Linked DNA regions of Homo sapiens. The protein of the gene in region 1 interacts with the protein of each later gene in a biochemical or structural test. Each region holds a gene or a part of one and is shown in the gene's direction. Other genes may lie near its edges. The genes, in order: MAP4K4, SLMAP, STRN4 and LATS1.

Region 1 (5,484 bases):
CTTTGAAACTTGGCCCTGAAGAACGTTTCCACCTTTTGCGTCACATTGACAGACTAGCAGTCAGCCCAGTTCTCAGATTTAAACATTTAGTCATTTAATGCAAGAAAGAAGAAGCTACACATATGTCCTTGGCAGCTGGTCCTGCTTGCCCGATACATCCCAAACACAAAGTCACTTCACCTCTACCCACTGTCTTCTGCAACCCTACAACTCAGTTTCAAGTGGAGTTTTGCCTACAGATTATCTCCCAAATCTGTGACCTTGAAAATCTCTACAGCTCAGACCTAATCCAGGATTTTGTCAGCTTGTTGGCTTATACTTTCCTAAGTATGTTTACCATAGCTGCAACTATAGCATTCTTTGAATTTCAGGCATTTAAATATTTTTATCATGCATGTCATGTCCTTTAAGATTTATTAATAAATGGCACAAAAATTCTATTTATGGGTTATATGAAGTAATTAATACATTTTTTGTTGATTTTTAAAAAGAAATTAGGTTGTTAAGGAGTCTTCCGTGATGCTCATTGTGTTTTTTAAAGACATTTATTTATTAGAAGGTGTTAACAGTAGAAGTGGAAAGAAATAACTTCAGAAACATCCATTTTTTTCCTTTGTTGTCTCACAATATGCCAACGTGTAAGGAGTTAGTAGTAACAAGCCTGAGTTGTAATAAAAATTGGCTGCAGATGGTCACTCCTTACAAATTATAAATTGATAATTGCCCCAGAGGTTTTTGTGGGTTGTTTTTGTTTGTTTGTTTGTTTTGGTGACGGAGTCTTGCTCTGTCGCCCAGGATGGAGTGCAGTGGCGTGATCTCGGCTCACTGCAACCTGAACCTCCTGGGTGCAAGCAATTCTCTTCCTCAGCCTCCTGAGTAGCTGGGATTACAGGAGCCCACCACCATGCCCAGCTAATTTTTTGTGTTTTTAGTAGAGATGCGGTTTCACTATCTTGGCCAGGCTGGTCTTGAACTCCTGACCTCATGGTCCGCCTACGTCGGCCTCCCAAAGTGCTGGGATTACAGGCATGAGCCACCATGCCCAGCCTTTTTATTTATTTATTTATTTTTTGAGACAGAGTCTTGCTCTGTTGCCCAGGCTGGAATGCAGTGGTGTGACCTTGGCTCACTGCAGCCTCCACCTCCCGGGTTCAAGTGATTCTCATGCCTCAGCCTCCTGAGTAGCTGGGATTACAGGTGTGTGCCACCACATGGTATTTTTAGTAGAGATGGGTTTTGTCATGTTGGCCAGACTGGTCTGGAACTCCTGGCCTCCCAAAGTGCTGGGATTACAGGTGTGAGCCACTGCACCTGGCCTCAGAGTTTCTTTTGAAAAGGCTCTTTGGGAGTCTAAGCTTCTCGTACTTGACAGTGTTGAGGATGATGGTGGCTTAGATTCCCTGGCTGGAAGTGCTTCATGACCATGGTAACCATTCCCTCTCTTTTCTTGCTTTTGCAGGTGTTCTTTGCCTCTGTTCGGTCTGGTGGCAGCAGTCAGGTTTATTTCATGACCTTAGGCAGGACTTCTCTTCTGAGCTGGTAGAAGCAGTGTGATCCAGGGATTACTGGCCTCCAGAGTCTTCAAGATCCTGAGAACTTGGAATTCCTTGTAACTGGAGCTCGGAGCTGCACCGAGGGCAACCAGGACAGCTGTGTGTGCAGACCTCATGTGTTGGGTTCTCTCCCCTCCTTCCTGTTCCTCTTATATACCAGTTTATCCCCATTCTTTTTTTTTTTCTTACTCCAAAATAAATCAAGGCTGCAATGCAGCTGGTGCTGTTCAGATTCTACCATCAGGTGCTATAAGTGTTTGGGATTGAGCATCATACTGGAAAGCAAACACCTTTCCTCCAGCTCCAGAATTCCTTGTCTCTGAATGACTCTGTCTTGTGGGTGTCTGACAGTGGCGACGATGAACATGCCGTTGGTTTTATTGGCAGTGGGCACAAGGAGGTGAGAAGTGGTGGTAAAAGGAGCGGAGTGCTGAAGCAGAGAGCAGATTTAATATAGTAACATTAACAGTGTATTTAATTGACATTTCTTTTTTGTAATGTGACGATATGTGGACAAAGAAGAAGATGCAGGTTTAAGAAGTTAATATTTATAAAATGTGAAAGACACAGTTACTAGGATAACTTTTTTGTGGGTGGGGCTTGGGAGATGGGGTGGGGTGGGTTAAGGGGTCCCATTTTGTTTCTTTGGATTTGGGGTGGGGGTCCTGGCCAAGAACTCAGTCATTTTTCTGTGTACCAGGTTGCCTAAATCATGTGCAGATGGTTCTAAAAAAAAAAAAAAAAAAAAAAAAAAAAGGAAAAAAAAAAAGAAAAAGAAAACGTGTGCATTTTGTATAATGGCCAGAACTTTGTCGTGTGACAGTATTAGCACTGCCTCAGTTAAAGGTTTAATTTTTGTTTAAACCTAGACGTGCAACAAAAGTTTTACCACAGTCTGCACTTGCAGAAGAAAGAAAAAAATTCAAACCACATGTTTATTTTTTTTTTGCCTACCTCATTGTTCTTAATGCATTGAGAGGTGATTTAGTTTATATGTTTTTGGAAGAAACCATTAATGTTTAATTTAATCTTAATACCAAAACGACCAGATTGAAGTTTGACTTTTATTGTCACAAATCAGCAGGCACAAGAACTGTCCATGAAGATGGGAAATAGCCTTAAGGCTGATGCAGTTTACTTACAAGTTTAGAAACCAGAATGCTTTGTTTTTACCAGATTCACCATTAGAGGTTGATGGGGCAACTGCAGCCCATGACACAAGATCTCATTGTTCTCGATGTAGAGGGGTTGGTAGCAGACAGGTGGTTACATTAGAATAGTCACACAAACTGTTCAGTGTTGCAGGAACCTTTTCTTGGGGGTGGGGGAGTTTCCCTTTTCTAAAAATGCAATGCACTAAAACTATTTTAAGAATGTAGTTAATTCTGCTTATTCATAAAGTGGGCATCTTCTGTGTTTTAGGTGTAATATCGAAGTCCTGGCTTTTCTCGTTTTCTCACTTGCTCTCTTGTTCTCTGTTTTTTTAAACCAATTTTACTTTATGAATATATTCATGACATTTGTAATAAATGTCTTGAGAAAGAATTTGTTTCATGGCTTCATGGTCATCACTCAAGCTCCCGTAAGGATATTACCGTCTCAGGAAAGGATCAGGACTCCATGTCACAGTCCTGCCATCTTACTTTCCTCTTGTCGAGTTCTGAGTGGAAATAACTGCATTATGGCTGCTTTAACCTCAGTCATCAAAAGAAACTTGCTGTTTTTTAGGCTTGATCTTTTTCCTTTGTGGTTAATTTTCCTGTATATTGTGAAAATGGGGGATTTTCCCTCTGCTCCCACCCACCTAAACACAGCAGCCATTTGTACCTGTTTGCTTCCCATCCCACTTGGCACCCACTCTGACCTCTTGTCAGTTTCCTGTTCCTGGTTCCATCTTTTTGAAAAAGGCCCTCCTTTGAGCTACAAACATCTGGTAAGACAAGTACATCCACTCATGAATGCAGACACAGCAGCTGGTGGTTTTGTGTATACCTGTAAAGACAAGCTGAGAAGCTTACTTTTTGGGGAAGTAAAAGAAGATGGAAATGGATGTTTCATTTGTATGAGTTTGGAGCAGTGCTGAAGGCCAAAGCCGCCTACTGGTTTGTAGTTAACCTAGAGAAGGTTGAAAAATTAATCCTACCTTTAAAGGGATTTGAGGTAGGCTGGATTCCATCGCCACAGGACTTTAGTTAGAATTAAATTCCTGCTTGTAATTTATATCCATGTTTAGGCTTTTCATAAGATGAAACATGCCACAGTGAACACACTCGTGTACATATCAAGAGAAGAAGGAAAGGCACAGGTGGAGAACAGTAAAAGGTGGGCAGATGTCTTTGAAGAAATGCTCAATGTCTGATGCTAAGTGGGAGAAGGCAGAGAACAAAGGATGTGGCATAATGGTCTTAACATTATCCAAAGACTTGAAGCTCCATGTCTGTAAGTCAAATGTTACACAAAAAAAAATGCAAATGGTGTTTCATTGGAATTACCAAGTGCTTAGAACTTGCTGGCTTTCCCATAGGTGGTAAAGGGGTCTGAGCTCACACCGAGTTGTGCTTGGCTTGCTTGTGCAGCTCCAGGCACCCGGTGGGCACTCTGGTGGTGTTTGTGGTGAACTGAATTGAATCCATTGTTGGGCTTAAGTTACTGAAATTGGAACACCCTTTGTCCTTCTCGGCGGGGGCTTCCTGGTCTGTGCTTTACTTGGCTTTTTTCCTTCCCGTCTTAGCCTCACCCCCTTGTCAACCAGATTGAGTTGCTATAGCTTGATGCAGGGACCCAGTGAAGTTTCTCCGTTAAAGATTGGGAGTCGTCGAAATGTTTAGATTCTTTTAGGAAAGGAATTATTTTCCCCCCTTTTACAGGGTAGTAACTTCTCCACAGAAGTGCCAATATGGCAAAATTACACAAGAAAACAGTATTGCAATGACACCATTACATAAGGAACATTGAACTGTTAGAGGAGTGCTCTTCCAAACAAAACAAAAATGTCTCTAGGTTTAGTCAGAGCTTTCACAAGTAATAACCTTTCTGTATTAAAATCAGAGTAACCCTTTCTGTATTGAGTGCAGTGTTTTTTACTCTTTTCTCATGCACATGTTACGTTGGAGAAAATGTTTACAAAAATGGTTTTGTTACACTAATGCGCACCACATATTTATGGTTTATTTTAAGTGACTTTTTATGGGTTATTTAGGTTTTCGTCTTAGTTGTAGCACACTTACCCTAATTTTGCCAATTATTAATTTGCTAAATAGTAATACAAATGACAAACTGCATTAAATTTACTAATTATAAAAGCTGCAAAGCAGACTGGTGGCAAGTACACAGCCCTTTTTTTTGCAGTGCTAACTTGTCTACTGTGTATTATGAAAATTACTGTTGTCCCCCCACCCTTTTTTCCTTAAATAAAGTAAAAATGACACCTATTTTATGTGGCATGAGTTTCGAATATGTTCTGACCCTTCAGAATGTTTCCTTCCTGTGAGGATCCATATTTTATGCATACCTGCCTACCCTGAGCTTCCCGTACCAGAGCAGGCTCCTGTATTTTGCTATTTCAGATGACAGGGGCTTGCCCAAGGCCAGGTATAGATTACAAAAGTAGCAAATGTTTGTCTAAAGACCTCAGAGATGAAGTGGGAGATGAACCTCCATCACCAGGTTCCTGAAGACAGTATGGAGTAAAGCTGGTCCTTAAAGAAATGTCACATTTTTGCAGTTTTGAATTTGGATCAAAAAATACAACAGCATGATGTCTGTAATAGGTCAATTAAAGTAGCTCTTTCTCAGTTTGGTGCATAAATACTAACTTGGGTTTAATAATTGGAGCCCCTTCAATGTAAGGTCATTGTGTCTTCAGCGCTGGGGTTCCCCATCAACCCCCCCATAGGCCTGGTAGGCATGATCGCCGTCGGGCAAATCTGGG
Region 2 (7,040 bases), on another chromosome or scaffold:
CAGATTTTTGCTCCTGTCACCCAGGCTGGAGTGCAGTGGCGCTATCTCAGATCACTGCAACCTCTGCCTCCCGGGTTCAAGTGATTCTCCTGCCTCAGCCTCCAAAGTAGCTGGTATTACAGGCACACGCCACCATGCCTGGTTAATTTTGTATTTTTAGTAGAGACAGGGTTTCACCATGTTGGCCAGGCGGTCTTGAACTCCTGACCTCAGTTGATCCACCTGCCTCAACCTCCCAAAGTGCTGGGATTACAGGCGTGAGCCACTGCACCTGGCCCTCATAATTCTTTAAAATGAATATTCATAGAACTCATTTTTCCAGCAGTTGAATTCAAACATCAGTTTACTACTAAGTAGTGCCTTAACTCAACCAGCTTTTACATTTTCACCATTTTATGTTCTTGGGCAACAGGTCTAAACTAATCAGACAACAGGTTGGCTCACAGTACATACTCTGCGAATGCACTTTCTTTGATGAAACACTCGAAGGGGACTCCCATTTTTTGTTTTACTTATTTGAAAAATACTGATTTCATGCCCAGTGCTTTCCATGGCTGTACTAAAACTCTCACAATAGGTTATTTTGAGATAACTAAGAATAGGTCAGTAGTGACTGTTTCATGAATTGAGATGACATGTTAATATTTGTTTTTTTTCTTTGAGATGGAGTCTCGCTCTGTGGCCAGGCTAGAGTGCAGTGGCGCAACCTCAGCTCACTGCAACGTCTGCCTCCTGGGTTCAAGCGATTCTTGTGTCTTAGCCTCCTGAGTAGCTGGGATCACAGGCGCATGCCACCATGCCCAGCTAATTTTTATATTCTTCGTAGATACTGGGTTTCACCATGTTGGCCAGGGTGGTCTTGAACGCCTGACCTCAAGTGATCCACCCTCCTCGGCCTCCCAAAGTGCTGGAATTACAGGCATAAGCCACCACACCCGGCCATGAAATTAGTTCTTCAGAAAAACTTATCTTTGAATGGTAGATATGGCTTATTTCTACCATTTTCACTTTTTTCCTCCTGCTTTATTAGCTAAAATAACACGCAGGCTATGAGACCACTACTTTAGATATAGATGTAATTATTGATTATTATACCACTTAATCTAGTTATAGCGGATGCTCTGTCAGATCTTACCATGTCATTGAATTGTTTTAGGAATTAACTATTTAAAGTTTTGGTTTGGACAGATAGTAGGTTTTAATTGAGCATCTATTATGTGCCAGACACTGTGAGGGATACAGTTCCAAAGAAAACCCACAGTGCGACCAAATAGTTCTCGTATGAAATTTGCAGTGTCTGTAGTCCCACCTACTCGGGATGCTGAGGCACGAGGGTTGCTTGAGCCCAGGAGTTTGAGGTTGCAGTGCTGTGATTATGCCACTGCACTCCAGCCTGGGTATCAAAGCAAGACCCTGTCTCTTAAAAAAAAAAAAAGAATCCCTTCAGAGAAGGAGTTTCGTTCTTGTTGCCCAGGCTGGAGTGCAATGGCGCGATCTTGGCTCACCACATCCTCTCCCTCCTGGGTTCAAGTGATTCTCCTGCCTCAGCTTCCCGAGTAGCTGGGACTACAGGCATGCGCCACCACGCGTGGCTAATTTTGAGTTTTTAGTAGAGACAGGGTTTCTCCATGTTGGTCAGGCTGGTCTTGAACTCCCAACCTCAGGTGATCCACCCACCTCAGCCTCCCAAAGTGCTGGGATTACAGGCATGAGCCACCGCGCCCGGCCAGGTTTTTTTTTTTTTTTAAACATCTGGGGATGATAATGGTACCTATTATTGTTTTGAGAATTGAGGTAATTATATAAATCACTTAGCACCCTGTCCCTGGCTCTTACTAAGCACCCAATACTCAGCAGAGAGGGTGTTTAGTGGGGAAGAGGGAACTATTTAGACAACACTGTGCAATTTGCTATAGTGCTATGGAGTCTTAGGAAGGTGATGAGAAATTATTTTCTTTAATGTGATGGCATATATAGAATAAATTTTGTTTTTGTTTTTGTTTTTTGTTTTTTTGAGACGGAGTCTGGCTCTGTCACCCAGGCTGGAGTGCAGTGGTGCGATCTCAGCTCACTGCAACCTATACCTTCTGGATTCAAGAGATTCTCCTACCTCAGCTTCTCAAGTAGCTGAGATTACAGGCATTCATCACCATGCCTGGCTAATTTTTGTATTTTTAGTGGAGACAGGGTTTCACCATGTTGGCCAGGCTGGTCTCAAACTCCTGACCTCAGGTGATCCACTTGCCTCGGCCTCCCAAAGTGCTAGGATTACAGGCATGAGCCACTGTGCTTGGCCAGAAGAAATTTTTAAAATTGAAACTGATGTAGTTGATAACTTTGTCTAAATTGGCAGTTTACCTGGGCGGTCGACAATTGGGGTAATATGTGCTTTGGGTGACTTTCACTTTGTGGTGACTGTTGCATTCTGCATTGTCCATTATGGGAGGCTCATTAAAAGTTGGAAGAAGGCCGGGCGCGGTGGCTCACGCCTGTAATCCCAGCACTTTGGGAGGCCGAGGCGGGTGGATCATGAGGTCAGGAGATCGAGACCATCCTGGCTAACAAGGTGAAACCCCGTCTCTACTAAAAATACAAAAAATTAGCCGGGCGCGGTGGCGGGCGCCTGTAGTCCCAGCTACTCGGGAGGCTGAGGCAGGAGAATGGCGTGAACCCGGGAAGCGGAGCTTGCAGTGAGCCGAGATTGCGCCACTGCAGTCCGCAGTCCGGCCTGGGCGACAGAGCGAGACTCCGTCTCAAAAAAAAAAAAAAAAAAAAAGTTGGAAGAAATAGGCCAGGCTTGGTGGCTCATGCCTGTAATCCAGCACTTGGGGAGGCTGAGGCAGACGGATCACGAGGTTAGGAGATCGAGATCATCCTGGCTAACACGGTGAAACCCTGTCTCTACGAAAAATACAAAAAATTAGCTGGGCATGGTGGCATGTGCCTGCAATCCCAGCTACTCGGGAAGGCTGAGGCAGGAGAATTGCTTGAACCCGGGAGGCGGAGGTTGCAGTGAGCTGAGATCGCGCCACTGCACTCCAGCCTGGGTGACAATGTGAGACTCTGTCTCAAAAAAAAAAAAAAAGTTGGAAGAAATAATAAACACTTGAAACTTTATGATTATTCAAATGATACATGTTCATTTTAGAATATCTGCAAAATGTAGGCAGGTGGAAATCTAAGTGACACTTTTTAATGCTAAGCTCATGGAATATCTTATTGTATAATACTTAAATCTGCATGTTGAAGGGTGACAGGTTTGGCACAAAGCAGAGTTTCATAATCTTTACCAAATCATCTTCTCAGTAATGTAGCAGTTGGATATTGCCTTGTTGGATGCTGGCCCTGTGTATTATCCTTCATCCTTTTCGGAAGTCAAGCTCTTCAAATTAGATGGCAGATAGTAGAATGGTTTTTTTTTTTTTTTTTTTTTTTGAGCCGGAGTCTTGCCCTGTCTCCCAGGCTGGAGTGCAGTGGCGCAATCTCGGCTCACTGCAACCTCTCCCTCCTGGGTTCAAGTGATTCTTCTGCCTCAGCTTCCCAAGTAGCTGGGATTACAGGCATGAGCCACCATGCCCAGATGCCTGGCTAATTTTTTGTATTTTTAGTAGAGACAGGGTTTCACCATTTGGCCACGCTGGTCATGAACTCCTGACCTCAGGTGATCTGCCTGCCTCGGCCTCCCAAAGTGCTAGGATTACAAGTGTGAGCCACGGTGCCCAGCCTAGAATGGTTATTAATTCCTCTGTTGATTCAAGGCACCACTGAGCAAGCAGATCTACCCATATAGTGGTTACATAGAAAGGATAGTGAGTGAACTCTTGTGATTTGGATGGCCCTATTTGATTTGAGGCTTTGGGGTACCGGTGACATGCTAGTGGTTGACATAGTAGTCTATTTCCAGTTTCACTGAAGTTTACTTACTAGTGGTAGTAGTTGTCTACTTCTAGTCTCACGTTTAATTTAAACTTAGTGCATCTTTTTTTTTTTTTTTGAGATGGAGTCTCGCTCTGTCACTCAGGCTGGAGTGCAATGGTGTGATCTCGGCTCACTGCAACCTCTGCCTCCTGGGTTCAAGCAATTCTCTTGTCTCAGCTTCCTGAGTAGCTGGGATTATAGGCACACACTACCACGCCCAGCTACTGTTTTTTATTTTAGTAGAAACGGGGTTTCACCATGTTGCACAAGCTGGTCTCGAACTCCTGAGCTTAGGCAATCCACCCGCCCCGGCCTCCTAAAGAGTTAGGATTACAGGTGTGAGCCACCGCGCCCGGCCTAGTGCATCTTTTTGAGCACCTGTTCTATCATGATTTGTTTTAGTGAAGGGCATAGTGGTAAAGGGGGAGAAAATGACAAACTGATGAGGATTTGTTATTTCTTCTTTCTAGGAACTTTTACATTGGATAGAGAGGGTGACAGTGCACTTTGAAAATAGTTGAGATAGGTGATATTATGTAAGTTTCAATGGCAAAAGAATAATGACATTTGACTTTAAAATTAGGGGTGGATAGATAAGAAAAGGTGTTTTTTTGGTTATTTTTATTTTTTTTGTGGGGATGAGGATGGAATAAAAAGCAGATAATTTTGAATGAGCTTTGCATTTTCCAAATGCTGAGGAAACTGACTTTGTTGGATTAGAGAGTTCTTTGAAGAGTAGCCAAGGGTGCACATCTATTCTGTGTGATGTTCTTGTTTGTGCCTTGTCTTTGTAATTAATTTTCACACTCTGGAAGACAGGAACGTTTTCCTACTATCTTGTATAAAGTAGTTGTTGAATAAATGAAGCTGACTAGATAGTGTGGTGCCAGGTTGTGAAGTGCCTTGCTTACCAAGCTTAGGATGTGGACCCTTGGGTTATGGAAGGCCTACGAGAGTTCTGAGCAGAGCACTGACATACCAAACCCCTGTTTAAGAAAGAGTGGGCCGGGTGCGGTGGCTCACACCTGTAATCCCAGCACTTTGGGAGGCCGAGATGGGTGGATCACCTGAGGTCAGGAGTTTGAGACCAGCCTGGCCAACATGGTGAAACCCCACCTCTACGAAAAATACAAAAATTAACCAAGTGTGGTGGCATGAACCTGAAATCCCAGCTACTTGTGAGGCTGAGGCAGGATAATCACTTGAACCCAGGAAGCGGAGGTTGCAGTGAGCAGAGATCCCATCTTTGCACTCCAACATGGGCAACAGAGGGAGACTGCATCTCAAAAAAAAAAAGAAAAGAAAAGAAAGAAAGAGTGATACAATAGTGATACAATAGCAGTATGTAGAGTTGCCTGGAGCAAGGAAAAATGGGTAACAGCTTAAATAACACTTTTGTACTAACTATATACTGGGCCCTATTCTAAATGCTTTACTTGTTAACTTATTTAATCTTCAAGTAACTCTTTGAGGTGCTTGTTTTTTCTGCATTGACCTGTGAGGAAATTGAGGCACAGAGAGATCTTGGTCAAGTTCACCTAGCTATTAAATGGTAGAATTGAGATTTAAACTCAAGCTCATAACCACTGTGCTATTCTAAAGGCTTTATAACACTTTAGATATGATGTGATTTTGTGAGGGCATAGACCAGGTTAACAGTAGGAATGAAAATGATTAAATGCCAGAAAATGAAAAAAGATAAGAGTATTAAATTAACTTGCACATTAGGACTTCGGCAAAGCGCAAGGTCCTGTGTGAACTGAAGACTTTAGGGAAAGTTTAATGGATGAAACAGTTTCATGGATGAAATCCAATTTAAACTAGACCTTAGGACTTTTAAAAAGAGGAAGAATGGCCAGGAACAGTGGCAAATGCCTGTAATATCAGCTACTTGGGAGGCTGAGTCTGGAAGATTGCTTGAGGCCAGGAGTTTGAGGCTGTAGTATGCCAAAATTGCACCTGTGAAAATCCACTGCACTGCAGCCTTTGCATCATAGCAATAATTTGTCTCTAAAAAACAAAAAGTTCAAAAACTTGTATTTGCCAGGGGTGCATCAGGTCTGTAGCCCCACCTATTTGGGAGGATGAAACAGGAGGATCACTTAGGCCAGGAGTTCAAGGCTATAGTGCACTATGATTGCTCTAGCCTGGGTGACATAGTGAGACCCATCTTAAAAAAAAATATGGGGTTAAGGGATAGATTGTAGTTAGGGTCAGTCAGGGAAAGGAGTTTTGGGTGGGAGGAAGAAGCAGGGATGATACGGCATGTTCCAAGGACATTGTAAGGAAGACATTGTGAAGAGCCTGCTGAATTTGACAACCAAGATTGTTTCTTCTTTTTTCCTCCACACATCTAAACATGACCACAAAGATCCTAGCCTCAGCTTTTGGGAGAATGGCAGGTCATACATTCTTTTACTTTTTATTTGTTTGTATGTTTGTTTTAACAGATACTTAAGTTTTTTGTTGACAGAAGTATAAAGATCATTAAGGGGTGCTGGTGTTTGTGAGAAAGTCTTTTACTTGACAAGTTGTATTTAAGACACATAATGTGAACATGTATAGGAAGCCAGATTATATCTTTAAAGCACATGTTCATTTCCCTCTATATTATTTTTCATAATAGTGGGAAATTGATAAAATATTTTATCTGTGATTTCAAATTGTTAAAAATATCGACAGTGTATATACTTAAAGCATTTTTTTTCCCACTTAGTTCTTTGACATTACTCCTTAGGTTAAATTCACTCTTTGCCCTTTTAGGCTTCTGTCTGATTTTCTTTCTTTTTTTTTTTTTTTTGAGACGGAGTCTTGCTCTGTTGCCCAGGCTGGAATACAGTGGCGCGATCTCGGCTCATTGTAAGCTCCGCCTCCCGGGTTCACGCCATTCTCCTGTCTCAGCCTCCTGAGTAGCTGGGACTACAGGCGCCTACCACCACACCCGGCTAATTTTTTTTTTTTTTTTTTTTTTTTGTATTTTTAGTAGAGACAGGGTTTCACCGTGTTAGCCAGGATGGTCTCGATTTCCTGACCTCGTGATCCGCCTGCCTCAGCCTCCCAAAGTGCTGGGATTACAGGCGTGAGCCACCACACCCAGTCTACCTGTCTGGTTTTCTTAAGTG
Region 3 (7,040 bases), on another chromosome or scaffold:
CTGGCCCCTCACTGGTGCCCGAGAGGTGTCGCCAAACTCAGCCTGGGGGGCTGACATGTGGAAGGGGTCAGCCACGCCCTGGAGGAGTTCACAGTGGGCAGAGCTTGGCCTTGGTGACCTAGGGCAAGTGGGTTCCTGCTGCTCAGCCTGTCTCCTGGCCTGTAATGTGGGAATGATAATGACAGTGTTCACGGTAGCTGTTCGCAGGGTTGGGGGTTAAGTGAAGTCGTGTCTGCGAGGGGTAGTCAGTGGTCATTCAGTGAGTGGAATTTGCTCTTGTGCCAGCACGGCTGCTGGTGCTGTGTTTATCGCTGCAATGCTGTGGTCCATTCATCCTCACTTGTTTGCACCTCCGTATATTCACACACGGACACCAGTGCATATCTGCCCTCCCTGCAGGCAGATTGTTGCATTATCTGACTTTTCTTCATCCGAGGCACCTTGCTGGGGGACTGGAGCAGGCTGAGCCCTGGCTAGGGGAAGGACTGCGTGAGGGTGGGGTCAGGCCGACCGGCCCTAGTGGTAGCAGCTGTCCAAGGCCCAGCAGGGGGCGCTCCAGGGCAGCTGGCTGGCGGCTGAGGCAGCCCCATGAACAGAAACGGGCCCAGAGCCCCGGCTTACCTGTTCCTAGGCACGGAGGTGGCTTAGTCTCTGGACAAGAGGCCCCCTGACTTGTCTGGCTTTCTCCATGTGCCAGCTCCCATCCAAGGCTCTGGTGCCCGAAATGGAAGACGAGGATGAGGAAGACGACTCTGAGGATGCTATCAATGAGTTTGATTTCCTGGGCTCAGGAGAGGATGGGGAAGGGGCTCCAGACCCTCGGCGGTGCACTGTGGATGGGAGCCCCCATGAGCTGGGTGAGCTGACGTTTTCTGGCCAGCCCCCGCTTGCCTTCCCCACCGAGGGGGTGGGAGCAGGCTCAGCTGCCCGCAGCTGCTTCCTGTACAGGGTCTCTCTACCGGACGGATATGTTTCCTGAGAGGAGGGTAGCCAAGGAGAGCAGGAGGCCCAGGTCATGGCCGCCGGCCCCTCACCCCTTCCCTGGAAAATCCCCATGGAGACGCAGGCAGTCCTGGCTCTTCCTGAAGTGGGGCCGCCAGCCCTCCAGGGCGGGCGTCCAGCTCTGGCTGGCCTCAAGGAGGGAACAGGATGAGGACCCAGTCGGGGAGAGGCAGGTGGGAGGGCCGCATCTTCCTCCCTGTCCTGTGACTCCTAGCTAGGAGGGCTCTCAGGATACGTGGGATGGGTGGCTGGGGCCTGAGGCCTAGGCAAGGCAGTGACCTGCCCACTGCCCCACGGAGGGGCCCAATCAACCTCCTCTCCTCTGCCCATTCCCCCCCTCCCCCAGGGCCAGAGCTTCACAGCCCCACAGAGTGGCAGGGGGCCCTCAGTGTGGGGAAGGCGTCACCTATGCCAGACTGGGTTGGAACTGCTGGGTGACTCCGGCCCTATGCCTCGACCCTGCAGAAAGCCGTCGGGTCAAACTCCAAGGCATTCTGGCTGACCTGCGGGATGTGGATGGGCTGCCCCCAAAAGTGACTGGCCCGCCTCCTGGCACACCCCAGCCCCGGCCACATGAAGGTAAGAGGCACCCCCCACCTGGTCCCAGTCCTGCGGGCCCATGGCAGAGGGAGGCTGCAGAGCTGAGCCCAGGGCTTCTGTGTCTTCAGGGTCGAGGCCCAGCCTCCAGTCTGCAGCCTCCCTGCCCCAAAAGTTCGTCTGTCTGTCTGTCTCCCTCTCTTTTTGTCTGTCCTGCCCTGTCTGTCTCTCTGTCTCTTTCCAGCTGTGATTCTTCATCTTGTCCTCTCCCCGTCTCTCTCTCTTGCTCTTTATCTCTTTCTCTGCCTCTCTCTGTCATTCTCTCTCTCCCTGGCCCTCTCTGCCCCTCCCTCCCCTCCCCCTACCAGGTTCCTTTGGCTTCTCCTCAGACGTCTTCATCATGGACACTATCGGGGGCGGGGAGGTGAGCCTGGGGGACTTGGCAGATCTCACCGTCACCAACGACAACGACCTCAGCTGCGATGTAAGTTCTCCGGGTGCCCCCCACACTGTCCCCATTGGCATTGCGCCCAGGGCCAGCCCCTGCAAGCTCTGACTGGGTGCCGCCCGTGCCCTGCTCATCCTGTTTCACAGAGGGGTGCAGATGTAGACAGTGGAGGGACTTGACTGCGGTCGCCAAGGCGCAGGGCCTGGAAGACTCTGGAGCCTGTGTTTTAATCACAGTTCCACGGCTCCTCCACTCTGCCCCTCCCACCCTGGTGATTTGGAATGCAGGAAGATGACCTGTAGCCACCCCCTGCTCTGCCAAGTCAGGCCAATCTAGTGTGAATGGGCAGCTGGGCTGAAATGAAATGTTCCGGGCCTCAGTGGACGGGCCTCTGGCCATCTGGGAGCCTTTGGCCAGCTGGGAGCCTTTGGCCAGCTGGGAGCTTTTGGTGTGGGTGTATGTGCACATTTTACTGTGACAGAATGGGATTTCCAGTGTTGGTGACCCTAGTAAGGCTGGGTGGGGACTGCTGTGAGATTCAGGAAGGGGGGTCAGAGCAGAGGCCTGAGAAGTGGAGTGTGCCATGGGGTCCCTCTGCACGCCCCAAGATGTCATTTCATCTTGGGGAAGTGCAGTGTTCTGAGCCCCGCTAGGGGAGGGGGTGAGTGAACCACACAGTAGCAGATCCTCTGACCCTAAAGAACTGTGGCAGAAGGGACAGCTAAGGCAGGGACGTCAGCTGGGAGCCCATCTTGGGGCATGGTGCTGAGGCTTGCCTGGTACTCTGCTCGTCATCTCTCCGGAACCTGGCCCTCTCCGGGTCCCCTGCTGGGTGAGCGGCACCAGGGCGCATGCAGCGTGGTGGACAGAGGCCCCCACAGCTCTCCCACTTGTGCACTGCCTCCCCTTCATGGTCACGTGTCTGGTCTCCATGCCCTCATCTCCCCTGGGACTTCCTGGCCTCTCAACCTCTTTCTCTGAGGCTACCTTTTTTTTTTTTTTTTGCTCCTTGAGGGGATCTCCCTATGTTACCCAGGCTGGTCTCGAACTCCTGGGGTCAAATGATCGTTCTGCCTTGGCCTCCCAAAGTTCTGGGATTACAGGCGTGAGCCACTGTGCCCCGTCTGTGGCTACTTTTACCTGCCCCTAATCTGAGCCTCTCAGGGGTGGCAGGAACAAGCCATGTCGTTCCCCTGCTCTAAACACTTCCCCGGCTCCTTGTTTCTCTGAGGCTTTTTCTTAGGATGAAATGCGCATTCCTCCGGGGCTCACCACCCAGCACCTGTCTCATCCCCTGCCACTCTCCTTGCCTCCTGCAGCCTGTACCACTGACCTCTCAGGCCTGGGCTCGCCCTTGCTGCCTCAGGGCCTCTGCACGGGCCCTTTCCCTCTCCAGGGCCCTCTCCTTATCTTGTGAAGTCCTGCTGGCTCGTGCTTCCTCAGGAAAGCCTCAGTGGCCCCCAGGGAGGAGGGCAGGCTGCCTGATGTCTCTCTGTGCATCTTTAATTCATTGCCCTGCTCATGGCTGATGATCCTGCACACTTGTGGGATGGTCCAGTTGTGTCCCCCATTCCCCTTCCTCTCAACTGCAAGACCCCAAGGGGTCAGGCTCACCTTTGTCTCTCCAGAACCCAGCGCAGTGTGGGGACTTGTTGGGCGAGCATGGAGACTCTGCCCAGCAGAGGAAGGGGAGAGTTCCCGGCTGGAGCCCAGGCTCTGAGGGCATTCCTGCCAGGGTCATGTGGGTGGAAGACAGGGGCCCTCAAGCCCTGGGTGTCGGTGTCTGCATGACTGCTGGGATGGATGCGAAGACACTGAGGCAGCTCCCCCCAACCCCAGCTGTCTGACAGCAAAGATGCTTTTAAGAAGACGTGGAACCCCAAGTTCACCCTGCGCTCGCACTACGACGGCATTCGTTCCCTGGCCTTCCACCACAGCCAGTCGGCTCTGCTCACCGCCTCCGAGGACGGCACGCTCAAGCTCTGGAACCTGCAGAAGGCGGTCACGGCCAAGAAGTGAGGGCAGCAAGCTCAGAGCCGGGGGCAGGGGCATCTGGGGACGGGGGTGACAGGGTCTCAGTGACATCAGGCTCCTCTGTCATCCCACAGGAATGCGGCGCTAGATGTGGAACCTATACATGCTTTCCGGGCTCACAGGTAGGGAGGTGCCCCTGAGCCTGCTAGAAACTCGTCCTAAATGCAGCCTGACTCCTGACCTGCTCACTGCCATCGCGGGAGGCCCACGGCAGGAGGCAGGACAGCAGGGGGCTCTGAGTCCCCGCCCCCTTCATGATATACACAGCCCTGGTTCTTGGGGCTCCATGCTGACTTTCACATGCCCTGGCAGCTGGTACTCAGCACAGCCCTTCAGGGGAGGAGATGGAGGTGGGGTGGGGGAGGGCAGGGGACAGGCAGCTTGTCCAGGTAGCATGGCCAGAGCCCCAGTCACTGAATTCCTTTTGGCCATCCTTGAAGAATGCTAGTAGGGAACTTAGGTCCTGTGGCCAGGGGAGGCCCTGAGCTTGTCTCATCCCCCTTTCCACATATTTGTCCCTTCCAGGGGCCCAGTGTTGGCTGTGGCTATGGGCAGCAACAGTGAATACTGCTACAGTGGCGGGGCAGATGCCTGCATCCATAGTTGGAAGATTCCAGACCTCAGCATGGATCCCTATGATGGCTACGGTGAGGACAACGCCTCCCGCCTTCCCCTCACATCCACTGGGGCCTGGCCGTCCCCTCCACGCACACACACGTCGCGTCCACCTCTTGCCAACACTGCAGGCCTCAGGAGTGCGTGTGACGGCTCCCCTGTCTGCTCTGTTGTGAGCAGCGCGATGCAGCGCGTGGCCAAGGGACGAGCCAGCCGGGATGGGAATGATGGCTGTGGGAGGAGGTGGTGAAGCTGCCTGAGAATCTCTGTGAGCCGGCGTCCAGAAGGCAGTGCTGAGGCAGCCCAGGCTGGGAGCAGCCCATGCACAGGCGTGGCTGGCCCTGGCAGCCTCTGCTCTGCCATGCCGTGTACTCTGTGTGTGGGGATCCGCCAGGGTCTCTGCGTGGTTGAGGGGAGGGCATGTCCAGAGAAAGCAGAGAAGGTGGAGTTAGCTGGGCCAGGCTGGAGCGCGTTGGGGCTTTCTCTTTGGAGCATCTAAGACCTAAGTAGGGAAGTGACCAGACTGTCACTTCTGTTCAACATCTGTCCCCCTGTTCTCTGCCTTTTTTTTTTTTTTTTTTTTTTTTTTGAGACAAAGAGTCTCACTCTGTCACCCAGGCTGGAATGCAGTGGCGTGATCTTGGCTTACTGCAACCTCTACCTCCTGGGTTCAAGTGATTCTCGTGCCTCAGCCTCCCGAGTAGCTGGGATTACAGGCACGCACCACCATATCCAGCTATTTTTTGTATTTTTGGTAGAGACAGGGTTGCACCACGTTGACCAGGCTGGTCTTGAACTCCGGACCTCAGGTGATCCACCCACCTTGGCCTCCCAAAGTGCTGGGATTGCAGGCATGAGCCACTGCGCCCGGCTCTGCCTCCTTGATCATGCACCTGGCCCTGTGCTCCACCTTGTCTGGGCAGAGTTCAGAGGTCTTTGTCTCCTCTCAAGGGGAGGACAGACTTTAGAGAACAGGCTCACCTGCACAAGGTCAGGATCGGTCCCAGCTACATTAGCCACCACACTTTCGGTGTCAGCAGGCCAGAGCTGCTGGTGTGGACTCCAGCAACCAGGGAAGCAGTGATTGGACCTCTGAATGACCAGGGGGCTTTGGAGAGACCAGGCAAAGCCCATGCACTTGGCCATGGGCTGAAAAGACTGCTCGGGCCAGGGTTGGGACCAACCCTTGTCCAGCACAGGCTGCGTGCCGCTCCTGGGGCCACAGAACCATGCTGTTCCTTCTTCCTTAATGGAGCCCGAAAAATTCTGTATTGAGCTCCCAGTTTCTGGGCCCTGCTTGGGGAGACAGCTGTGAATAGAGGGAAATCCCTGCCTTCTGGAGCCCTAGAACCTTCCTTGGAGAGCTAGTGGGCAGTGTGAGCAGCTGCCGGGCTGTCCTGGCAGTGGACAGTTCCGAGGGGCACCAGGTGTGAAGTGGGTGCGTGGGTGATTGGAGCCCAGCTGCCTGGGGCTTGGCAGAGCTGGGGCTCTGGGCTGTCCAGGGAGGAGCTGGCAGCCCTGACACAGCCCATTTCCTCCCTGCGGTGGGTGCAGACCCAAGCGTGCTGAGCCACGTCCTGGAGGGCCACGGGGACGCCGTGTGGGGCCTGGCCTTCAGTCCCACCTCCCAGCGCCTGGCCTCCTGTTCTGCTGATGGCACCGTCCGCATCTGGGACCCCAGCAGCAGCAGCCCGGCCTGCCTCTGCACCTTCCCCACAGCCAGCGGTGAGTGGGGGCCCCGGTGCCTCACCCTGGAGCTGTGCGGGATCTGGAGGCTATCAGAGTGGTTCCTGCTGAGGCCCCAGGCCTCCCACCCACTGTCCCCCACCCTGGGGCAGGGCTGGGTCTGAGGGTCCATTCAGCAGCCTTCTCTTCCCTGTGCCCTCAGAGCACGGGGTCCCCACCTCAGTGGCCTTCACCAGCACCGAGCCTGCCCACATCGTGGCCTCCTTCCGCTCTGGCGACACCGTCTTGTATGACATGGAGGTTGGCAGTGCCCTCCTCACGCTGGAGTCCCGGGGCAGCAGCGGTAAGGGGGCTGACATCAGCTCATGGAATTGGTCTCAGTGTCTTCTGGGCCCCACTTCCTCCTGGGGCTTTGGCGACCCCTTGTCAGTCAGCTCAGATGACTCCCCTGCACCCTCAGGCCCTGAGCAGGAAGGAAGTTGGGTCCCAGTGGAGGGCCCCCGGCCCTCACAGCCAGGGCACTGGCGGGGCTGAGTGGGGAGAGCGCGTCAGGGCCGCCCCGTCGGGCCCTCTTGGTAGAGTGGCGGAATGTGTTCATGTTTGTTATTCCTCTTCCCCCGCCCCAAAACAGGGCCCAGGGGCTGCTTGTGCAGAACCAGCGCTGCGGTCGGGGACCGGAGTGCCCTCGCCCAGCCCCCCTCGACATCCAGGCAGAGGC
Region 4 (7,040 bases), on another chromosome or scaffold:
AGTGCAGTGGTGCGATCTCGGCTCACTACACCACCCAGGTTCAAGCGACTGTCCTGCCTCAGCCTCCCAGGTAGCTAGGACTACAGGCGTGTGCTACCATGCCCAGCTAATTTTTGTATTTTTAGTAGAGACGGGGTTTCACTATGTTGGCCAGGCTGGTCTCAAACTCCTGACCTCAGGTGATCTGCCTACCTTGGCCTCCCAAAGTGCTGGGATTACAGCGTGAGCCACCGTGCCCAGCCAAGATTCTGGATCTTATGGAGAATTTTGACCTTGTTTTGACAAGCATTAAACCCGGTTGGGTTCAGGCCACAAGTTCCAACCAGTCTTTTTTGATTTCAATGTCAGTTTCAAAGGCTTTTCCTTTCTAGGCAGATAGATCTCTTTGTAGGCTGTGGTCTTTTCCTTAGTTCAGTTCTCAAAGTCTTTGGTATGCTCCTTAGGATTAGATCCACATAGTTACAGTTTGGAGGGGGAGCCCAGCAGTTCATAAGCAACTTAATGGGGTCACTTGCCCAATCTCCTCCCTCTCTGTGATGTCCCCAGTACTTTCCTGTTCCCTGGGGCTCCCTATTTAGTTCTCTGACCAGAAAGTGAGGCTTTACTTATCCAACTCTGCCAATATCTCATAACTGCATCTGAATCCAGGACAAGGTGGCAAAAGGACACAGAGAGAAAACGAGCAACAGAGATTCAACCCATCTTCTTGGGACCCCATGCTTTATTAATTTATATATTTATGAGATATTGTCTCACTCTGTCACCCAGGCTGGAGTGCAGTGGCACAATCTTGGCTCACTGCAACCTCTGCCACCTGGGTTCAAGTGATTCTCCTGCCTCAGCCTCCCGGAGTAGCTGGGATTACAGGTATGCACCACCACACCCCACTAATTTTTGTATTTTAATAGAGACGGGGCTTCACCATTTTGGCCAAGCTGGTCTCGAACTCCTGACCTCAAGTGATCCACCCGCCTCGGCCTCCCAAAGTGCTGGGATTACAGGCGTGATGAGCCACTGCACCCAGCCCCATGCTTTGTTATTTTATTTACAATTGGAGAGGAAGGTTTGGCTGTCAGTTTTAGGTGCATACTGGCTCTTATTGCCACCTCCGTTGCTACCAGGAAACTCCTTTTCTACTCCCTGAGCCTGAACTAGAGGGAATTCTCCTAGAGCTCTCTGTGCTCAGCTTCTTCCAAGTTTTGGGCTACCTTGAGTCCAGCCTGCAGACTACTAGAGACAAAAAAATGGAGCTGGGTGTGCTGGCAGAGGCCTGTAGTCCCAGTTACTCGGGAGGCTGAGGTGGGAGGATTGCTTGAGGCTAGGAGTTCAAGACCAGCGTGGACAACATAGTGAGAATTAATTTTTTAAAAAAATAATTTTTTTTAAATGGTCACCAGGTTTAATGGTACTTCAAATTTACATCTTCTCCCCTAATCTACCTGTTATTATTTACTTTTCAGGATCTTGAAGTAGCTGCTTCCTGCATCCTGACCAGGTTTTATAGCTGCCTTCTGTGGGAGGGAGACAGGAGAGTATATGTAGTACATCTTCCTCAAAACTGGGACCTCTCTGGTTGCTTTTAGGGTTTTCTTCTCTTTAACTTTGGTTTTCTTCAGTTTGACCATGGTGTGCCTATGTGTAGTTTTCTTTGTATTTTTCTTGGTTGAGATTCACTCAGTTTCTTGAAATGTACATTAATGACTTTCATCGATTTGGGGAAATTCTCTGTCATTATCCCTTCAAAGATTTATTTTGCTTTCTTACCTTTTGAGACTCTAATGATTATACATGTGCTATTCCTTTGATACTGTCCTCCATTTCTCTTATGCTTTATTCTTTCTTTTATTCTACATGTTTTCTCTCTGTGCTTCAGTTTATATAATTTTATTCATCCATCTTTGAATTATCTGAATCTTTTGCTGTGCTCTTTTTTTTTTTTTTGCCTTAAACTGAAAAATCCTAAATATACCTTAAAATAAAAAATATTAAACTTGGCCAGGCACAGTGACTCACGCCTGTAATTATAGCACTTTAGGAGGCCAAGGTGGACAGATCACTTGAGGTCAGGAGTTTGAAACCAGCCAGGCCAACATGGTGAAACCCCGTCTCTACTAAAAATACAAAAAAATTAGCTGTGCGAGGTGGCGGGCACCTGTAATCCCAGCTACTCAGGAGGCTGAGGCAGGAGAATCGCTTGAAACCAGGAGGCAGAGGTTGCAATGAGCCGAGATCACGCCACTGCACTCCATCCTGGGCGACAGAGCAAGACTGTTTCAAAAAAAAAAAAAAATTGTTCATCTCATTGTGTATATTTTTTATTTCTCCTGTTTGAAATAAGTGATGAAACTGGAAGCATAAATAACTATTATTAACTGTATCATTTTTTTTTTCCAAAAAGGGTTTTTAAAATATTCTATTATTAGTTGAAGCCTCTCCATTTTCTAATCTGGGATAAGACTTTAAAAGGAACAAATAATAGACGAGGGAGTATATTTTTCTTCCCTCTATAGTAGCTGACTAGCTCCTCTACAAATAAGGAAGATTATACTGTTCATTTATTCAGCTTTTTAAAAAATATTTATTGACTGCCTACCATGCAACAAGTTGAAGATTTTTTTTCCCTCTTTTGAGACAGGGTCTTGCTCTGTCGCCCAGGCTGGAGTGCAGTGGCACAATCACGGCTCACTCTAGCCTCGACCTCCCTGGGCTCAGGTCATCCTCCCACCTCAAGTAGCTGGGACCACAGGTGTACACCACCAACCTGGCTAACTTTTGTATTTTTTGTAGATATGGGGTTTCACCATGTTGCCCAGGCTGGTCTTGAACTTCTGGGCTCAAGCAATTCATCTACCTCGGCCTCCCAAAGTGCTAGGATTACAGGTGTGAGCCACAGTGCCTGCCCAAGTTAAAGGTATCTAAACTTGGTTAAATGACAATGCATTCTACCACTTAACAGAGTTTGCCCCAAATCCATTTAATATCGTACTTGGAGTTGTATACCAATTCCCCTGCCTCCAAGAGTTCAGCGGGAGAGACTAGGTAGTCTTAGGTAGTCTGGCTTCACTTGGCATTCCTTTCTTCATCATTTCATTTTATTCATAACCAGAGATTTTTCTTTTTTTTTTTTTTTTTTTTTGGAGACAGTGTCTCGCTCTGTCACACAGGCTGGAGTGCAGTGGTGCAGTCATGGCTCACTGCAGCCTCAAACTCCTGGGCTCCAGGAATCCTTCTGCTTCAACCTCCTGAGTAGCTAGGACTACAGATGCATGCCACCATACCTGGCTAATTTTTAAAGTTTTTTTGTAGAGAGGGGGTCTCGCTTTGTTGCCCAGGTTTGTCTTGAACCTTCCCGGCTTCAAGCAGTCCTCCCACCTCCGCCTCCCAGGGTGCTGGGATTACAGGCAAAAGCCACCACGCTTGGCACCAGAAAAAGTTTTATCAAACATGTATTAAGTATGTGCCAGGCAATTTACTGAGCACTAGGAGATACAAAGACCACTAAAACATAATCCCTAGCCTTAATGGATATATTTCAGTAGGACATAAACATAAATAGGTACCACAAGCTATTAGAAATATGATAGAAATAAATATATGGTACAGGGGAGGCAGAGTAGAAGTAGTCACTTCTACCATAGGCCAAAAGGTTTACTAGGGGAGATTAAAACTGACAGTGAGTCTTATAATGTGAGTAGAAGTTGCTTGGAGAGGATGGGATAGGAGAAAAAATTATTTTCCAGCAAAATATCATGTAATTTATTTAAAATACAAAAATAGCCCAGTGAGACTTTTGGTATAAAACTTGAAGGAAATCTTTATTTTTCTAATTTATCTCTTCCCCCTAATTTTAAAAAATCTTTAAAGGTTATCAACTGGCAAACATCTCTTCACATTCCACCACAAGCTAAACTCAGTCCTGAAGCTTCTGATCTTATTATTAAACTTTGCCGAGGACCCGAAGATCGCTTAGGCAAGAATGGTGCTGATGAAATAAAAGCTCATCCATTTTTTAAAACAATTGACTTCTCCAGTGACCTGAGACAGCAGTCTGCTTCATACATTCCTAAAATCACACACCCAACAGATACATCAAATTTTGATCCTGTTGATCCTGATAAATTATGGAGTGATGATAACGAGGAAGAAAATGTAAATGACACTCTCAATGGATGGTATAAAAATGGAAAGCATCCTGAACATGCATTCTATGAATTTACCTTCCGAAGGTTTTTTGATGACAATGGCTACCCATATAATTATCCGAAGCCTATTGAATATGAATACATTAATTCACAAGGCTCAGAGCAGCAGTCGGATGAAGATGATCAAAACACAGGCTCAGAGATTAAAAATCGCGATCTAGTATATGTTTAACACACTAGTAAATAAATGTAATGAGGATTTGTAAAAGGGCCTGAAATGCGAGGTGTTTTGAGGTTCTGAGAGTAAAATTATGCAAATATGACAGAGCTATATATGTGTGCTCTGTGTACAATATTTTATTTTCCTAAATTATGGGAAATCCTTTTAAAATGTTAATTTATTCCAGCCGTTTAAATCAGTATTTAGAAAAAAATTGTTATAAGGAAAGTAAATTATGAACTGAATATTATAGTCAGTTCTTGGTACTTAAAGTACTTAAAATAAGTAGTGCTTTGTTTAAAAGGAGAAACCTGGTATCTATTTGTATATATGCTAAATAATTTTAAAATACAAGAGTTTTTGAAATTTTTTTGAAAGACAGTTTTAGTTTTATCTTGCTTTAACCAAATATGAAACATACCCCCTATTTTACAGAGCTCTTTTTTCCCCTCATAACCTTGTTTTTGGTAGAAAATAAGCTAGAGAAATTAAGCCATCGTGTTGGTGAGTGTTCCTAGGCTAATGATAATCTGTATAATTCACATCCTGAAACTAAGGAATACAGGGTTGAAAAAATATTAATATGTTTGTCAGAAGGAAAAATAATGCATTTATCTTCCCCCCCACCCCCCGCCCCATGGAATATTTAATCTATTTAATCTTCTTGCATTTATTTCTCAAGAATTACTGGCTTTAAAAGAAGCCAAAGCACTACTAGCTTTTTTTCCATATTGGTATTTTTGATGCTGCTTCCAATTTTAAAAGGGAACAAAGCTGCCATAAATCGAAATGTTCAATACTAAAAGCTAAAATATTTCTCACCATCCTAAGCAGATAATTATTTTAATTTTCATATACTTTTCCTGTATAGTAACTATTTTGATTATATCATCAATGTTACCTGTTTCCTCTTTCAGAACAGTGCTGCATATACAGATTGTTATTGGCAAAGGAAAATCTGGCTATCTGGCAATATTTTACCTAAGCGCAGATTAATTGGTGAAAAAATTAACTCTTAAGATGGCCATTAATAATTAGGAAAGTTTACAGAGTGGTCTTAGTAGAAAATTCAAGTCCTCCTAATTTATTTAAGGTTCAATAATGCGTTCAACATGCCTGTTATGTATAACGCTTAGGTTCTAAGGAAGATTAAGGTTTCATACCAAAATACATGTAGCTTATCTTTTAGGAAGGGGAAAAAGGCTCCATTTTGACCATAGTAAAATTTGTGTTGTGTTTTATTTCCTTTTCTTAAGCTCCACTGATAAGGGATTGTTTTTATCAAAAGTTACTATTTGTAGATTGGAGGCATAATTTTAGTGATTTTCATACTTTTAGCTTTCTTCGCATAAAAGCTAATTGAAACCGTATATGTAGTAAAATTAAAGGCAGAGCTGTTGCAGTTGAATTGGAGAGTTAGGGCAAAGAACACTTATTAGCCCACACTTCCCACCTTTCTACAGGTGGTCCTTTCAGAGCTCAGCCTGAAAACCCACTACTGTGTTATCGTGCGTCTTTTGGGGTTAGTGGTTCTTTTGAGAATCTGAAGGAAGCTGTGGACTCTTCCTAGAAAAAAAAACCACACATACACATACAATGTTGCATGCAGTTTCAAGGGATTTTGGACATATTGAAACCTATCACAGGCTGTAGGTTATGGACCTCTGTGCCATGAGAAAATTGATACATTAAACTAAGAACTTTGTTTTTAACTTACCAATCACTACTCAGCACATCTTATATAAGCTGATAATTTGTGATGGAAAAGGTCTGTAGCATGTGATATAAGGTGACCTTATGAATGCCTCTCTTGCTGGTACATTAAGTTGTTTTAATATATCATTTGGAGGGGACTGAAATGTTAGGCTCATTACAAGCTTGATACAGAAATATTTCTGAAGGATTTCTAATCAGAATTGTAAAACAATGTGCTATCATGAAATCGCAGTCTTCACCTCATGGTTCATGGAACATTTGGTTAGTCCCATAAAATCCTATGCAAAACAAAGTAGTTCAAGAATTTTTAGGTGGGTAGTCACATTTATAAGGTATTCCTCTTACTCTTTGGGCTTTTTCAGTCTGATTTATTTAAATTTTCATTTAGTTGTTTTACTTTTGGACTAAGGTGCAATACAGTAGAAGATAACTTTGTTACATTTATGTTGTAGGAAAACTAAGGTGCTGTCTCCTCCCCCTTCCCTTCCCACAAAATCTGTATTCCCCCTATTGCTGAAATGTAACAGACACTACAAATTTTGTATTCTTTTTTTGTTTTTTGTTTTGAGACAGGGTCTCACTCTGTCACCCAGGCTGGAGGGCAGTGGCGCTTCACAGCTCACTGCATCCTCAACCTTGGGGGCTCACGCAGTCCTCCCGCCTCAGCCTCCCAAGTAGCTGGGCATGCGCCACCAAGCCCAGCTAATTTTTGTATCTTTAGTAGAGATGGGGTTTCGCCATGTTGCCCAGGTTGGTGTGGAATTCCTGGGCTCCAGTTATATGCCCACCTCAGCCTCCCAAAGTGCTGGGATTACAGACGTGACCCACCGCGCCTGGCGCAAATATGTATTCTTTTAAAATTTCCTCTGATACTATAAGCTTTTTGCATTTATCTGAAGCAGTATACATGCCTTTGGTATCAGCAATTTTAACAGTTTGGATATACTTATCAGCTATCTTAT

What was found.
Region 2: the proteins of MAP4K4 (region 1) and SLMAP form a complex in vitro, tested with the Homo sapiens proteins (one study listed by BioGRID).
Region 3: the proteins of MAP4K4 (region 1) and STRN4 form a complex in vitro, tested with the Homo sapiens proteins (one study listed by BioGRID).
Region 4: of the proteins of MAP4K4 (region 1) and LATS1, one has a biochemical effect on the other in vitro, tested with the Homo sapiens proteins (one study listed by BioGRID).

The regions. Positions count from the first base shown.
Region 1 is NC_000002.12:101,889,707-101,895,190, forward strand, and holds the end of MAP4K4 (mitogen-activated protein kinase kinase kinase kinase 4), read left to right. Parts: intron 1-1,459; coding exon 1,460-1,543; 3' UTR 1,544-4,984; downstream 4,985-5,484.
Region 2 is NC_000003.12:57,759,299-57,766,338, forward strand, and holds part of SLMAP (sarcolemmal membrane-associated protein), read left to right. Parts: intron 1-7,040. UniProt on the Homo sapiens protein: Associates with the striatin-interacting phosphatase and kinase (STRIPAK) core complex, forming the extended (SIKE1:SLMAP)STRIPAK complex.
Region 3 is NC_000019.10:46,722,435-46,729,474, reverse strand, and holds part of STRN4 (striatin-4), read left to right. Parts: intron 1-697; coding exon 698-857; intron 858-1,467; coding exon 1,468-1,581; intron 1,582-1,783; coding exon of another isoform or gene 1,784-1,928; coding exon 1,929-2,023; intron 2,024-3,826; coding exon 3,827-4,002; intron 4,003-4,095; coding exon 4,096-4,143; intron 4,144-4,546; coding exon 4,547-4,668; intron 4,669-6,190; coding exon 6,191-6,361; intron 6,362-6,524; coding exon 6,525-6,665; intron 6,666-7,040. UniProt on the Homo sapiens protein: Calmodulin-binding scaffolding protein which is the center of the striatin-interacting phosphatase and kinase (STRIPAK) complexes.
Region 4 is NC_000006.12:149,659,063-149,666,102, reverse strand, and holds part of LATS1 (serine/threonine-protein kinase LATS1), read left to right. Parts: intron 1-1,460; coding exon of another isoform or gene 1,461-1,583; exon of another isoform or gene 1,584-2,787; coding exon of another isoform or gene 2,788-2,886; exon of another isoform or gene 2,887-2,911; intron 2,912-3,864; coding exon 3,865-4,374; 3' UTR 4,375-7,040. UniProt on the Homo sapiens protein: Negative regulator of YAP1 in the Hippo signaling pathway that plays a pivotal role in organ size control and tumor suppression by restricting proliferation and promoting apoptosis.